Linked DNA regions of Homo sapiens: region 2 is linked to region 1. A link means that fine-mapping ties the variant in region 1 to the expression of a gene that starts in the linked region. Tissue or cell type: lung. Region 1 holds a variant in brackets; the other region holds the start of a gene. All regions are shown on one strand. Distances are between the middles of the regions.

Evidence for each region. PIP is the estimated chance that this variant, and not a neighbour inherited with it, causes the effect.
Region 2: FAM53B starts here. The variant in region 1 is fine-mapped to the expression of FAM53B in lung (TOPMed, PIP above 0.99).

The regions. Positions count from the first base shown.
Region 1 is chr10:124,628,484-124,636,585 of GRCh38, forward strand. The region is part of intron 4 of FAM53B (family with sequence similarity 53 member B); the gene reads right to left. Among named protein-coding and RNA genes, the nearest start is that of FAM53B-AS1, 71 kb to the right of the region's middle. RefSeq lists an enhancer at 1,368-2,220. The variant C/T (reference allele first, on the strand shown) is at 3,850.
Region 2 is chr10:124,741,348-124,749,449 of GRCh38, forward strand. FAM53B (family with sequence similarity 53 member B) reads right to left here and starts at 3,031. Exons shown (of 5, transcript NM_014661.4): 1 at 2,666-3,031. RefSeq lists enhancers at 1-32, 7,708-7,907 and silencers at 1,910-1,989, 2,080-2,289, 2,610-2,769, 2,820-2,929, 2,950-2,999 and 1 more.

The sequences.
Region 1 (8,102 bases):
ACTGAGATCCTCCACTGGCCAAGTGGCCTCACTTCCCGTTTCCTCCCCTGGGAAGCAGAACTGCTGTCTCTGGCCAGGCTGCTTCACAGGGCCACTGCAAGGATCCTAAGAGGAAAGCCAGGCTGCTGGTGTCCCACCTGGAGTCCCAAACCCACAGCAGTGCCCACTCTCCACTGCTGTGAGTGTTGGCTCTGACAGTTCATGGCTGCCCCTTCCGGAACTACTCTGGGCTGGGAGATCTAGGATAGGAAGGAGGTTACCCTTTCCCTTTGGGGTCACCCCCAGCCAATGACCAACAGGTGCAGGGACAGGAGCTGTCCCTCCTCTTGGGCGGGATCAAGTCCCACGTGCTAGTCACACTTCGCAGCTCCCAAAGCACCAGGCTGAGAAGCGACTTCAGCTGAGCCCACCTCTTTCCTGGGCCTCTGCAGTTCATGGGCTTCCCTCGCCTCCCTGAAGGTTCTTGCTGGGAGCATCCCTCTCTGTGTCACTGGCACGAGAATCCCCGGCTCAGGCCCCGCTTCTAGAGACCCAATCTAAAGCCACAGGTAAAAGCACCCTGGGTGTTAATGTAGTTATAGGTTATGCACCTGCTTCTTAGTACTACTATTCTTTCTAGAACGGGAATGTCAAGCCATGGTCAGAGACTGGCCACGGGGCCCTGTGGGGAGTCCAGTTCCTGGCCCCAGCCTGCCTGGCATGTGCTGGGGAGGGGTGGTTGTTGGGGACGCCTCTCCTCGGTTAGTCGGTGTCTTAAGTGTAGTGCCCACATGAGGCTTCCTCTGGGCCCCTGCCTGCGCCAAGTCCGTCTCCCAGAGGTGCTCAAGTGCCTCCCTTTTGGGCAAGCGAAGACCACTTCCCTCCTGTGCCACTGCTCCTCATGGCGGGACCAGCTGCGTTTCCTCCTTCCCTTGCTCTCTCCCTCTTTTTAGTCCAGTTTTATGGCGCTCTGTGTTAGAGGTCTTCATGGAGCTACCTCGAGTCCCTCTGAGAAAGGGCCATCAACAAGCCCAACTCACAAGTCACGAGCAGAGCTGGTCCCCAGCCTGGCCTGGCAGCTGCCCTGCTGAAAGCTGCAGGGGCCCCAGGCTCTGGCTGAGTGGACGCATTTCCTCCCCAAACAGACGCTTGCATGAGAACAGAATTCTCCAAGTATCAAGAAAACACCAGGCTATGAGAATGGATGGCCAACAGCCTGGAAATTTTCTAAGTCCCATTTGTGCTGGAAGCTGGCACAGAAACAACCAAGACGGCAAGGCATGTGGTTTCCTAGGCTTTTTAAAAAACTATTTCAGAAAAGAAAAAAAGGCACAAGCATATTTTTGGCCCATCTTTAACCCATCTCTGGTAAATCTGGATTTTGCGTGAAGGCCGTACTCTTTCTCACAGGAAGCTGCTGCCCCTGCCCCTGGGGCCAGAGGGGTCAGGTGGTGGTGGCTTCTTTTCCTCTGAGGCTGCAGGTGCTAGAGATGCCTCGAAGGCTGTGGGCATGGCCAACCTTTCCCTAGGGGCTGACTGCCCAGGCTCTGCAGGGCCCTTCCCCTGGGCATCTGGTCTTCTGCTGCTGCCCAGCCACCTCCTGTGTAGGCCAGGTCAGCTGCTCGCCCAGGGCCGTGTTGGTGCCCAGTCTTAAAAAGGGATAGCATCAGCCAAGCGGGGTGGCTCACACCTGTCATCCCACAACTTTGGGAGGCCAAGGCAGGTGGATTGCTTGAGCCCAGGAGTTTGAGATCAGCCTGGGCAACATGGCAAAACCCCATTTCTACCAAAAAAACTAAAAATTAGCCTGACATAGTGGCGCATGCCTGTGGTCCCCGCTACTCGGGAGGCTGAGGTGGGAGGATCACTGAAGCCCAGGTGGCAGAGGTCGCAGTGAGCCGAGATTGCACCACTGTACTCCAGCCTGGGCAACAGGGCAAGACCTGTCTCTCCAAAAAAAGAAAAGCGGGGGACAGCATCATGCCCAGCCCATTTTTGTGAAATGCTTACCACCTTTGGACCCCAAAGAGGCAGCCCTTCTGAGTCTGGACTGCCTCCTTACCCTCAGGAATCAGGGCAACACTGGCAGCAAAACCCAGATGGGGAAGCCAGGTTGCCAGGGCCTGAAAATAGGGAAATCAGGTTGCCAGGAGCGGGAAGGTACTCCAGGGCCCTGGAAGCTCCACTGATTTGGCAATGGATACTCAAGACTCTTCCCAGACCACAGGTTCTAGAAGCAAATGGCCCAGTGGGGGTGGTAAATATCTTCAGGGTGGAAGGCTGGCCCTGGTCAGTTACTAGGAAAGTTCCCACCTTCCTGTGACAGTTTCCTTAGCTCATTTCTGCAGAGGCCAACAAATGTGTACTGAGCGCCTGCCACATGCCAGCCAGACTGTGGTCACCCCGTTCCAGAAGCCAGTACAGCAGGGGACAGACTTTGGCGGCACTGTCTCAGACTGGTCAGACTCACAGGGCAGGCGCCATTTTTCCTTTTCTGTGGACAAGGTATCTTGCCCCAAATCTGACATCCCCTCCAGATCTGGGAGGCCCAGGTGGTGCCAGAGCCAGGTATGCTGTGTGGCGGCCAGTCCAGGCCACGCTGAGTCACTTCGGGAAGGGTGGCACCAGCTTGGGGCTCTCTCCATGGTCTCCACACCCCCAGCCATCCCTTGGCCTTGCTGTCCCCGCTCTGGTGGCTCTCTTGGGGCCCTCATGCTGTGCATCCTGGGGGCACCCCTCCCGCTGGATTCTTTACACAGTGTAGCCTTGCCTACGGTAACTCGAGGCCTAGGACCCAGCTGGGGACAAGGACTCTAAGGAAAATTACCTATGGCCTCCGGAGGCTGAAGGAGTGGGGGAAGGAGGAGTTGATCTTGGGGACAGCCCATCCCCAGCCCAGACACCTAAAATCCCAGGCCTCTGAAGACGGACCTAGGGCCAGCAGGCCCAGCCTACTATCTCCCCTGCCAGACCCAAGGAAGGCAAGCGTGGGCTCCAGCAGGTGCCCTGTGGACTCCACTCATCCCGTGGGCTATCAGCAACAGAGGGTTACTCATAACGGAGCCCTAGAAAGTCACTCCGTTGGCCTGGGGAGTTGTCAAGTTCACCAGAGTGGTGCTCATCGGGCCAAACCCGCCACGCAGGCCAGAGCCCGGCCACCACTCTCGGGCTGGCCTTTCCCAAGGCCCCTCTTCCTCAGGCTCTGCTTCCTGGGCCCTCCGCCCTTGCTGCTCCCACTCAGGCTCTGACTCCTTCTATAGCAAACCTCTTTCAGCCACATAAACCCCCTCTGCACCAGCCCTGGGTCAGCACCATCCTGACGGCCCCGCCCTGTCTCCCTCTTCACTGGCAGATTCCTTCTCTCCCACCAAAACCCGCCTCTGCAGCAGCCACTCCGGAAGCAGGCCCAAGCTCCTGTGTGTACCCCATTTCCTGCCAAGCGTGCAGGGAACCCTGACCCCACATGCCACGGCCTGGTTCACAGTGGGTGCATCGTGCAGCCTGGGGGCAGAGGGTAGGTAGGAAGGAAGGGCCCACCCGGTCGGCCCTCCCAACTGGGCCTCTGTTTGCACAGCCCTGGGGTCCTGAGGCCTACACCCCAGGATGCCGTGGGTAAGAACAGACCTTGGAGGCCCAGAGCCACGCGTGTCCTCTGAATGGTGGCCAACCCAGGGGCCCCTCTCCGAGGGCACCCCACAGGCCACACGGTGGCGACGTTTCTGCACCAGGCCCCAGATGGCAGATGGCCTGCCCGAACACAGAAGGTGTGGGAGCTGACGCCAAAGGGCCTCCCGGTGCTCTCACAATTGGAAAACAAACATTTTGTTTCTGTGGTGTACATTCCAGCCAGCACACACTCAGGACAGGACT[C/T]GTGAAACCACCTCGCTCGCAGCTTGGCGTGAAGAGAATTCTTTGCCTAACAAAAGTCAAGGGACCTTTCCAAAGCACACAGGGTTCTGGCGGGGGGCCGAGGCTAATGTACTGCCTGCGCCCACAGACCTTGAATAGAGTCGACCAGCAGGGCTCACAGTTTTGGGGGTGGCTTCTGAGCAGGACTAGCGATGCAGAAGGTATGTCCAAGGCTCTCAGAGGGGCTGGTGGGCACTCGTTCGCATTCAGCTGCCTGGGGCCACATCGGGGTGCTGAAGACAGGACTGCTGAGCACGGCCTCTGGGCTCCACCCCAGCAGCTCACAACTCTGTTCCAGATATTGTCTTCCATGGAGGGCACACTCTTGGAGAAGTGAGCAAATCACCAACTGGTTTAGCCACTCTTGCAGATGAGCAGACAGAGGCCGAGTGAGGAGAAGGGACATGCCCCAGACTGCACAGCTGCGTGATGTGCAATCGCACCCCATCACTCTGGGCTGTGCTCAGGAAAGCATGCAGTCCTCCGGCAGGACGGTGGGGTAGTATGGGCTGGACAGGCCTGGGCTGGAATCCCAGCTCGGGTGTGCCCTGAGGGAACTTGGCAAATCATTAAACTTCTGTGCCTCAGTTTCTCATGTGTACAAGGCTAATAAGAGCCTCAAAGCCTCAGAAGTGTTTGGAGGGATAAATAGAGACCACCAAGGGTGCGATCCCCCCTTCCCACACTCCACCCCACAACTGTGCCTCTGTCTCTCTGTGGACACAGCAAGGCCACAGCAAAGGGGTCTGGGAGCTCTGCTTATATCCAACCACTCTTGCTAACAACAATCTGCTTTCAAGAGCAAGAAGACACGCCAGCAACACAAAAGATAAAATACCCAGGAATGAACTTATAAGAACTGGGAAAATTGATAGAAAAAAAAAAAAAAAACTTTAAAGAACAGAAAAGCAAGACTGAACAAATAGAAATAAATCCTGTGTGAGGGATAGGAAGACTCAACCTCAAAAAGGTGTAAATTCTCCCTAAATTAATTCAGAAGTCTAATATGATCCCAATCTAAAATATCAACAGTACTCCCAATCCCCATGGTCTTAAGACAGACTAATTTTCAAGTTTTTAATGAAAAAATAAACAAGTGAGATTAGTCAGGAAAACTCTGTAAAGAACAGTGGGGAAGCTAACCCTCCTAGACTAGCCCGTACCATATAATATGCCAAAACACATTACTAAGCCTCCATAACTAAAACAGCATATTAGTATGAACGTACATGCATACCTACAGAGACCAATGAAACAGAATGTTCTGAAATAGACCCAGTTTGGTATATGATAAGGGTAGAATCTCAAAGCAGAGGAGAAAAGATGGCATTCTCAACAGATGGTACTGAAACAGACAGGCAGCTACATTAAAGAAAATGCTGGCTCCATACTCACACCACATACAAGATAAACTCAACACAGACCAAAGAGTGTAATATAACCCATCAAAGTACTAGAAGAAAACAGGAGACTTCCTTTATCATCTCGTGAGAAAAAAAGGCCTTTCTAAAACTCAAAATCCAGAGCCATAAAAGAAATAAGTAATAAATTTGATAAAAACATTTACATGTCAAAAAATGCCAAAAGCACTGGTAGGAATGTAAGATGGTACAGTCGTTGCGGAGAACAGTTTGGCAGCTTCTCAAAATGTTCAACACAGAGTTACCATCAGACCCAGCAATTCCATGTCTAAGAAATGAAAACATATGTCTATGTAGAAACTTGTACACAAACATTTACAACAGTGTTATTCAAAATATCCAAAAAGTAGAAACAGCCCAAATGTCTATCAACTGGTGAATGGACACATAAAATGTGGTCTAGCTGTACAACAGAATATTATTTGGCCATAAAAAGAAAGGAGATACTGATACATGCTACGGTGTGGATGACCCTTGAAAGCATGACGCTAAGTGAAGGAAGCCAGACGCAAAAGGCCACATATTTCATGGATCCATTGATATGAAATGTCCAGAATAGGGAAACCCACTGATACGGTTTGGCTGTGTCCCCACCCAAATCTCATCTTGAATTGTAGTTCCCATAATCCCCACGTTTCGTGGGAGGGACGCAGTGGAAGGTAACTGAATCATGGGGGCAGTTACCTTCATGCTACTCTTGTGATAGTTAGTTCTCACGAGAGCTGATGGTTTTATAAGGGGCTTTGTTCAGCACTTCTCTCACCTGCCGCCATGTGAAGAAGGATGTGTTTGCTTCCCCTTCCGCCATGACTGTAAGTTTCCAGAGGCCTCCCCGGCCATGTGGAACTGTGAGTCAATTAAGACTCTTTCCTTTAAAATTACCCAGTCTCAAGTATTTCCTTATGGCAACGTGAGGACGCACTAATACACCCATGGAGACAGAACACAGTTTTGTGGTTGCCAGTGGCTGGGAGTGGTGGTGGCTGAAGGGGACGGGGAGTGACTGCTAAGGGGTATGGACTTTCTTTTGAGGTGATAAAAATGTTCTAAAATTGATTGTGGTGATGGCTGTAGAACTCTGTGAATATATTCAAGACCACTAAGTTGTACACCTTAAATGGGTGAACTGTGTGGTATATGAATTATATCTCAATAAAGCTCAAGAATGTCAAAAGCAAAGTCAGAAAACAAAGAACAAATTAGTAATAAATATTTGTAACTCATATCACAGGCAAAAATTAATCTCCCTAATATACAATTGAGAAGAAAACGACCAATGACACAATTATTTTATTTTTTATTTTTATTTTTGTTTTTGGAGACAGAGTCTTGCTCTGTCACCCAGGCTGGAGTGCAGTGGCATGATCTCGGCTCACTGCAACCTCTGCCTCCTGGGTTCAAGCAATTCTCCTGCCTCAGCCTCCTGAGTAGGTGGGAAAACAGGGCCCGCCACCACACCTGGCTAACTTTTTGTATTTTTAGCAGAGACAGGGTTTTACTACATTGGCCAGGCTGGTCTCGAACTCCTGACCTTGTGATCTGCCTCGGCCTCCCAAAGTGCTGGGATTACAGGTGTGAGCCACCACGCTCGGCCGACACAATTATTTTAAAAGGGCAAATGAAAAGAACACAGAAAAGGACATAAAAATAGCCTTTAAATATACAAAAGATGTTCAACTGATTAGAAAAACGCAAACTAAAATGACAGAGAAACCGTTTACCTATCTGGTTGTGAAAATGTCAACTGCTGGACCAGCCTCTACTGAGAGGTGGGGTGGGAAACAAACCACCCTGAACGTGGCCCTCTGAGATGCAGGGAGGAAGGGCTCCTACAGCGTTAACCTGGCGACATCCTCCAAGAGGCCAAAGGCACACGACGTGTGACCAAGCAATCCCAATGGGAACGGACCCTGCAGAAGACGGATCTCCCATGCCCAAAGGGACTCATGCACGTGAAATTCACAGCTGAAGCAGCCCGGAGGAGTCGGCAGGGGACCCCACAAAGTGGGTACATCTGTGCAGTGGAACACCGTGCAGCCAAAAAAAAGGGCATGAGAACACCTCCAGGGTTTACTATTCAAGAGAACAAGATACAGCAAGGTATGTATTGCATGCTATTATCTCCTCTGTTATAATAAGAATTGAAATTCCTATTTGCTTATATTGTAAAAAGGAGCACAAGAAACTAGCGGTCCATCTGAGGGCATGGGAGATGGGAGAGATGGGGCAAGAGTTTACTCTGTATGTTGTTTTAATTTTCGAACACGTGAATGTACTGTCCGAAAATGAAATGCCATGTCTATCTCTGTGTGTGTGTATTTATCTTAAGAGCAGAGCACACACTAAGTTAGAAAAGGCCAAAATCCTATTCACATGATCGCTTGTGTTTTCCAAGGTCGAATTCCCACCCCATCTCCATATTAAAATCTCTCGATGTTTCTCTACCAAAGTTCTTTTCTTTCCTTTTCTCTTTATTGGTAGCAACAAAGCGTATGAATTTTTTTTTTTAACGGCACTTTGCAAAATCTGTGGACAAAAAACCTCTACCAGCCCCAGGTTCCTGCACTTTAATAATCACCAAATTAAATCTGAGTTTCACACAAGGGGGACATGCAAACATCAGGAGGGGCCGACCCCTGAACGGCCAGTGAGCCACCCTGTGCCAGACGCCTGCATGTGGGTGGTTAGCCGGGTGGCTTTTCACATGGCTGGTAGGTGCTTTCACAGAACAACAGGAAGAGGGAGATCCCAGGAAAACACTGTTTTGCTGTACAGAGGTTCAGGTGGCCCCCT
Region 2 (8,102 bases), 110 kb after region 1:
CTGCCCAAATAAAACATCAACTGAACAATCTGAAGGTGGGCCCAGAACTCAGTCTTCAGGGCCCAAGGCATCGAGCGGTGGGTGAGAAGAGTGTGCTTTTTAAAAGAGCTCCGCAGCGTCCCCTGCTGCCAGCTCCTAATATTTAAACACAGCTCTCTCCTCTCTGGCCTCCAAAAGGGGAGGAGAGCAGGCTGGCCCTTCCTGAGCTTCAATCAAGGGTCAGGCGCCTGCTCACTGGACCCGCTTAAAGGAACCCAAGCCCACTAGGCTTCTGTAGAGAGGATGGAGAGGCTAGCGGGGCAGTGAGAGAATATATAAGGGGAAAGAGAAAGACTAAAAGATGGAAACAGAAAGAGCCCAGGAAATAATACCAGGACTTCCCATAAAATGTCAATTAAGCGTAACCACCACGGTGACAATAAGGTATCATAAAGCTCTTTCCAAAAGAACTTTGCGTACTTTCAAAATGCTATGTGCAACATACCCCACGTTGAAAAGAGAAGAGGGAAACTGATTTAAAACATTATGAACCAAGACAGTGGAATGCTCTCTACTTTGTCCTGAGAAGACTGGAACATTCAAGTCCACTTCTGCAGCAGTGAGGTTGCTAGTTTCTATTTAAAAACTTGTCTTTGATATCAAAATGACTGCACATGAATCTCACCTTCTCAGAAGAAAATAGGAAGTCGTTGGGCAACATTATTTGAATTTAAATCGCCTCGTTCTCTGAAGGAACGTTTGGAAGAAAAAAATACAGGCCTTCCCCACGCCTCTCCTTAGCTTTTTAACCTGAAAAAGCGCCTGGAAGCTGGATCGGCAGACTCCCAGGTCGCATGATGGGTGACAGCCAAGTGCAGACACAGAGTCAAGGGCTACCAATCCTGAGCCAAACCTTCTCCCACTGAATGGGACTATCAACTGGGACAAGTAGCTGTTTCTGTAGTCCACAGCTAGAGGCGGGGGAGGGGACCCTGTAGACCTGCAATTCAATATCAAAACTGTAACTGACACAAGTTACTCTTAAATAGATAAATTAAAATGAAACAAAAACCTGGCCTAATAAGGAACAGTGAGTTTCACCTGGTCGGCTGACTCCATTCCTTCCCAAGTCCTCAAACCAGGTGGCATCTTTTAAACGAGTCCAGGATCTGGAGCAAGGAGGAATCTCCCTGCCAGCCGGTGGGGACTGCTGGGAACACATATGCTAGCATGTCATTTGGAAGTCTGCTAATATGTTGTAAGCAGCACAAGACGCTTGCCTGGCTTCCCAGGCCAATAAACAATGCCATTCCAACTCCTGCAGCAGTCAATAGGAAACAGTCCCTTTTCTCCACCATCCAACAATTGAACAAACATTTGTTCCTGTTGAACAACCGTCAGCCTGGCTCCATCTGCACCCGCTCCTGCAAGGCGAGCGCGGCGGCGAAGGCGACGGCACAAATGCCCACCCCAGGATCCCAGACCCGGAATGCAAGCCATTCCGGGGGCCACTTTCCTAACACCACCGAGTCCGGAGATTGTACCGTATGGAAGACTCGGAGTGTGGCCTATAGGAGGCAGAATCCCATTCATCAAACGCTGCAAAGAGCTTTTCTTTGTTCACCATCGTCCTAAGTACAGTACGTGTTAATGAGCCCGGGCGGTCAGATGGAAGGAGCTCGGCTTCAGGGGGCGTCCGAACGCGAGGGACCCGGGCAAACCTGTCCGCGCGGTTCGTCGCTGCTGCGGCGCCCCGGCCCGTACTACAAGCATTGTTCCCCAAGTCCGAAAATGGGGGTGGAGAGCTGGGGGCTGGGGGACAAGGTGGGGGGGCGGGGGGAGCGAGAACACACTTGGGACAACACAAACCGCAAACCCTCCCCGGATTCTGGGTGTCCTCGTTTCTTTCGTCTCTGCCCCAAGAGAAACCCTGAGCGGGGAACCTGACTCCCACGGGCTTGCAAAATCCAAGACTAGCAAAAATGTGACTCGACCAGTGTGCCTGTGCCGGACGGCCCTTCTCGCCATGTGCAAAAGCCACGCCGGCGCGGACGCCCCCACTCCGCAAGCCCCAGCGGTGGCCTCCCCGCGGGCTTCCCCCGCCCGGGACAGAATGCCCCCTCACCCCCATCCTGACCGCCCCGGACAGTCCAGCAGCAGCGGAGCCCGCCGCCTCGCTCCCGCACCCCGGGGGTGGCGGGTGCAAACTTCCGCGAACAAAAGAGTTGTCTGCAAACGATGCGGGAACTTCGGGGCGAATGGGGCCGCCCGGCTCCCGAGACTCCGCGCCTCCTCCGCAGCGGCTAGTCAGGGCTCAAGTTGAGACGCGGAGAGGACACCCCCGGGCGCAGCAGTCCCCGCGCCCGCCCGCCCTGGCCTGGGGAGCGCAGACTTTTCCGCCGCAGCCAGGCTTGTTCTTCCCCATGCCTGTGCTCTGACAAGTCTCACGCCTGCATCAGGGGCGAGACCGAGCGCCCGGAGAAACCGCCCGACCCAACCCAAAGGCGAAACAAGGCAGAAAAAAAGGAAACCAGCAACATTAGGAAAAAAGAAAAAAAAAAGGCAAGCCCATTGCGCACGCGAGCCGGGCTCCCTCCAGCCAGCGGCCGGGACGCACACGGCCCGGACCTCGCTCGGGGCCAGCCCCCCGGCCACCGCCGCCGCCGCCCGGCCCCGGGTCGCTTACTGTGCGCGGCGGGGCGCTCCGGGCGCGGACCCCGCGCCGTCACCGCCAGCGCTCGCCAAGTCGTCCGGGGTGCCCGCCGCGCGTCCGCCGCGCGCACGCTCGCCTGCCGGCGCCGAGCGCTTTGTACGAGCGACTCCCGGGGAGGAGGAAATCGACTTGTCACTTCCTGAAGTGTTTGCAACTCGTCCCTTTAACCGGCACCGGCCAGGCCGCCCGCACCCGCCGCCGCCGCGGAGCCGCCAGACCGCGGCTGCGTGAACTCGGCCCGGCGCTTAGCGGGCGGTGTCGCGGGCCCGGGCGCTAGGCGCGGCGGCGGCGTGCAGGAGGCAGGCGGCGTGCGGCGGCGGCGGCAGGCGAGTGTGCAGTGCGCGCAGCCGCCGATGGGCGGGGAGTGAGGGACTCGCGGCGCGCCGCCGGCGGGGCTAGAGGGCGTCCTGCGGGCTCAGCCGCGCGCCGCTCGCCGCGCTCGCGCCTGCGAGGCCCCGGGACGCGGGAAGTGGCCCCGGGCCTGGGCCGCGCCACCGCGGCTGCCCGGGCCCCGCGCCAGAGGCCCTACGGGCTTCTCTCCCCGCCCCCAGCACGAGCCGGGATGAAAACGCTGGGCCGCATAGGCTTCAGGCGTCCAGCTTCCGGGTTGTTAGATGCCGAGGTTCAAAAGAAACGATCACTTCAGTGGCGTGCAGGACAGCGGGCGGGTGGGGTCGGGGAGGGGGGACCTTAAAGTGTTGTCACACTTTGGGAAAATAAAGCGCAAATTTCCTAACTCGGGGCGCTGTGACTGTGTACTTCAGAAGCCACATCCAAAATACATGCAACTGGCGAAGGAAGGATTTGTGGTTGCTAAGCAGAGGCAGAGCATGTTTAGTTCTGTAACTTAGGATGTTGACTTAAGTTCAGGAATGTAACCCTGATAGAATAAGCAGAGTATTTTCATTGTGCTGCTCACCTGGGGGAGGGGGATTGTTTTCCTTGTGAAGCCCTAGATTTCCCATTACTCCTTCCTACTGGTGTATGTTATTTTATTGACCTTGTATCCAAAAAGCGATTTTTAAAGAGAAGTTTTTTTAAAACTCCCTATGCCTGTTTTGTGTTCTCCTTTGCCAAAAAAACAAAACACCTCATTACTTTACATGGATTGTGTCTGCGCCATTTGAATGGTTCTATTCATAAATAAGGAAACTTTTTCTGTTGCTTCTAGGAACATTTAATTGGTTTTAATCCAATGTTTCAATCCCAGTATCAAACATAAATGAACAATTAACTTCTTGAGCTTTGTGTGCTTGGGAAACTATTATATTTCATGGCTATTGCTGAAATATTTCAGAATATCATCACACCGGACCCATTCTTTTCAGAAAAGCATGAACTGACATCTCCTTTCACACTACAGCTCGCTCCACTGAGTTCTGCTGCATGATTAGAATGGACAGCAATCAGTGGAAAGGATATGAGTCTATTCATTTCAAGTTACATGATGTGGGATAGAGTCAGTTCATCCTAGAAAGCCAAAATGAGCTAACATACAGAATACAGCATACTAAGATATTGATATCCTTACCCATATACGTTGCTTTTTAAAAATGCATTAAGGACCAATCTTGAAAGGAACAAGATCCAAGAACCGATGGTGAACAAAAGAAGGCCCAAGGAATAATCTAAGAATGCTGCTATGCTTAACGAAAAGAGTCAGTGTTTCCCTAAAGCCATCTGATATCACACAATCACCTCAGCCTTTCAGAGCTTTAAGGACAGAGTTTAATTTACTAACGTTTTATTAGGAAGCCTAGAGTGACTCCTGCTGGCAAACATTCAGTTTATTCCTACAATTACTAGTTCATCAGGTCAACTTAAAAAACAAGATGCAGGGTCCCAGGCCTGGAAACAATTATTACAACCATTATTCTTGTTGCTTTCAGGATGATTTGCGTTTCACATTCCAAGGATGGTGGTCATGGCCAGTTCCTCTGCTGTAACACCTCCTTTCCAACCTAAAGCAGCCTGTTTTTCTGGTTCTGAGGCTTTCTTGAGGCTGTCTAGAATATACTTGCTTAAGAAGTTATGCTATTAACCAATAAATAGTTACTTCTCATTTTCTAGATTTGTATCTCCAAAGGCTAAAAAGATATGCATACATTAAGACCTGTGTCACACTTAACCTTCCATACTATAGGTTCTTCCCACATGATATAATAATCCTACAGCTATATTATAAAACATCCTCACTTCTTAGTGCTCAGCTCCATAGTTCTTTACTAAGAAAAAATTCTACCCAAAAGGTTGTTGTTATATTAGAGTTCTGCTCAATTCAGAAGAGTAGCTAAAAATGTAGAACTCTAGATTTAAAGCTATGTAAAAGCTGCAATGGGGTGGGGACATGGAGCTAAACTGTCTATCTTTGTTCAATCCAAAATGGTCAAAACCAGATTTTGCACACAACCAGACACCTAAATGCAAATTCATAGGCCAATTTAGGAATAAATCCATAAATAATCTAAAAACTATTACTTGTAACTTTTCCATTATCACCAACCAACGCTAACCTGATTAAGCCGGAGAACACCCTGGGAAATATAAAATGCAGGGATTACTTGCAGTCTTTTACATCAAGACCAATATATGACGGCCCGGCACAGTGGCTCACGCCTGTAATCCCAGCACTTTAGGAGGTCAAGGCGGGCGGATCACTTGAGGTCAGGAGTTTGAGACTAGCCTGGCCAACATGGTGAAACCTCATCTCTATTAAAAATACAAAAATTAGCCAGGCATGGTGGCAGACACCTGTAATCCCAGCTACTCAGGAGTATGAGGCAGGAGAATCGCTTGAACCTGAGAGGCAGAGGTTGCAGTGAGCCAAGATCGCACCACTGCACTCCAGCCTGGGTGACAGAAAAAGACTCCATCTCAAAAAACAAACAAACAAACAAACAAAAAATATATGAAAGCCAGGGATAAAACACAGCAATCCTAGTTCTCCCAAAGGAGGACTACCAAATAGAGGCACACTTGTGTGTAAGGTGTGCAACACATTTCCACTCAAAACTGCCTGGGAGATAGAAATTGAGTATCATTCTATATTAGAGAGCTCCCCTATTACAAGTTTAAAGCTCTTAAGCAACAGGATGACAATAAGGGTGTGTTTTATTAAGGGTGTAACCTACTATAACTTGTATCAACAAGCTAATAAAAGTATTCACCTAAGCACATTTGTGCAGACGAGGGTAAAGGTTGGGTTTTGATATGCACTAAGGAGTGTCTTAGGTAGTTAGTGGGTGTTTTATTTTTATGCCTTTAGAACCAGATAAATGTGACGTTCAAACAAAGAGCTGAGCTTTGAGGCTTGAACAAGTACCAGCAAATGTTCAGTTTTTCCCATCAAATCTATCTGTAGGTATGGTTGTAAAAAGAGCTTACCACTAAAAAATTATAAACTGGTTTGAGAGAATAACATACTATCCTTTTTAGACTAACAAGTGAACTAAACAAACGCCAAACGTTATACACTGGATCCAACAGCAGTATGCAGATGCACGTGTATTCACCCCTTTATTTGGCTTCCAAAAGCCACTGCCTCTTTGTCACAACCCTTGTATTAAAAGCCAGTCATTCACATTTCACACTGTTCTTTCTACATTTGAAAAGATCTTTTTAAAAGCAGAACCTTTTTAAAATTGCTTATAATAAATTATGAGAAGACAGACATCACCAAGTCCACCTTAAGTATTTTCAAAAAGATAGGTGACTGGAAATATGTTAGCAAAATATACTTCTTTGGAAAATATAAGAAGTTTCTGGTTACAGATGGAAATAAAAAATCTGAACCTATCATGGGGGCAATTTTCACGTCTTACTCAGAAAAAAAAGTTCTGTAAATTTTCCCACATCTTTGTCCAGCTACAACTAGTAACCCTACCTACATTAGCATGTAGGGATCACATGACACATTAATCCCTCTGTTCTTTCCTGTCTGTTCTTTTTATCCACTGATGAAAATAAGAAATGAATTATAGCTCTGGCTGGAATCATGCATGTGTGTATATACATACATACATACATACATGAATGATACATATATATACACACACACCTTTTTAAAGAGGTATTTGGTTGCTGAGGACAAAATTACTCTTTGATCCAAGAACTAAATAAAACAATTTATTTTCACTGAAAAATAACCTCAGCAATGAGTTTAATAATACCAATCCCACTCCTTTGATACAAAATAAGAGTTGAAAGCAGCTTGAAGAGGAGTGACTATTGAGATCAGCGCATGTGAAGCCACACAGCTTTGTAACTGACTGTCTAGCACCATTGAGGTACGAAAGCATGCCAGCTGGGCCAGCATTGTGCACCACAAAGTATGGGTTGTGAGCCTAAGTCCTGAACACAAACCCTGCTTTCCAAGTTGGCAGGTGCTGAAAACACAGCAAATGTCACGCTTGCAACTCACTGGAGGGAAGAGTTCTGGTAAAGTAAGCTAAAAAGAACAGAGCAACAGTTAAAACTTATTTCAACTTCATATTTTTTTTTCAAAGTTAATAGTAACTACTGGTATTATGTGCTACAAGAAAACACAAGCATGAATAACAAACATTTAAAAGTTTATGTATGGTAAATAAAAAGCTTTAAAAAAGTGTAAGAAAGGCTTTTCACTATCTACAATCAAAGTAAATGGCATAAGTAAAACTTATTAAGCCTATTTTATTATCCTAATACTAAGGTTCAAAAGCATCTGTTTATGATCTTACATGAAGTAGATGCTAATTATTATCATTATAACATGGTGAGTTCCCTAGTTTGCTTCAGTTACCCCACCAAAAACATATCTAAAAACAAATTACAGTATTTTCATATTGCTATATTATAAATTGCATTTAATCTAGAAAATATTTCAACTGTAGACCAGGCTAAATGTTTATGTTACCATCTTTAAATGAAACCATTTCAACTTTTTTTCTTAAATATTCTTTAGTGGAATTCACATTCAGTATTTGAGATATAAGCTCAAAACTTAATTTTTCTCTTGTCAACTATCTGCCATAAGTCACTGCCTCAAGAAAAATCGATTTTGAATTCATCCCTAGTGATATGCTCAAAGCTACTGCTCTCCTGCCTTTCCCCCTAAAAATGAAACTGAGTAAATTTCATTTTCATTAGGTAGAAAGGAAACTAAAACTAGATACAGTTGGTGATTTCACAGAGCTTAAAAACCCAATCTAAAGGCTGAATCCTTTGGATTTAAAATGTCAAGAAAAGAAATCAGCCTCTAGTTCTAAAAGGCAGAACATTCCTGGGAGCAGTACGAAAAGAACATTTAGCCTACATACTAGCCTGTGAATTTCTTAACTCTCCTCAGCAGTTTGTCAATCTATTATATTAACCAAAAGCAAAGATCTTTTGTTTGAATTCATACCCATGACTGTTCTAAGAGAAGACTAGC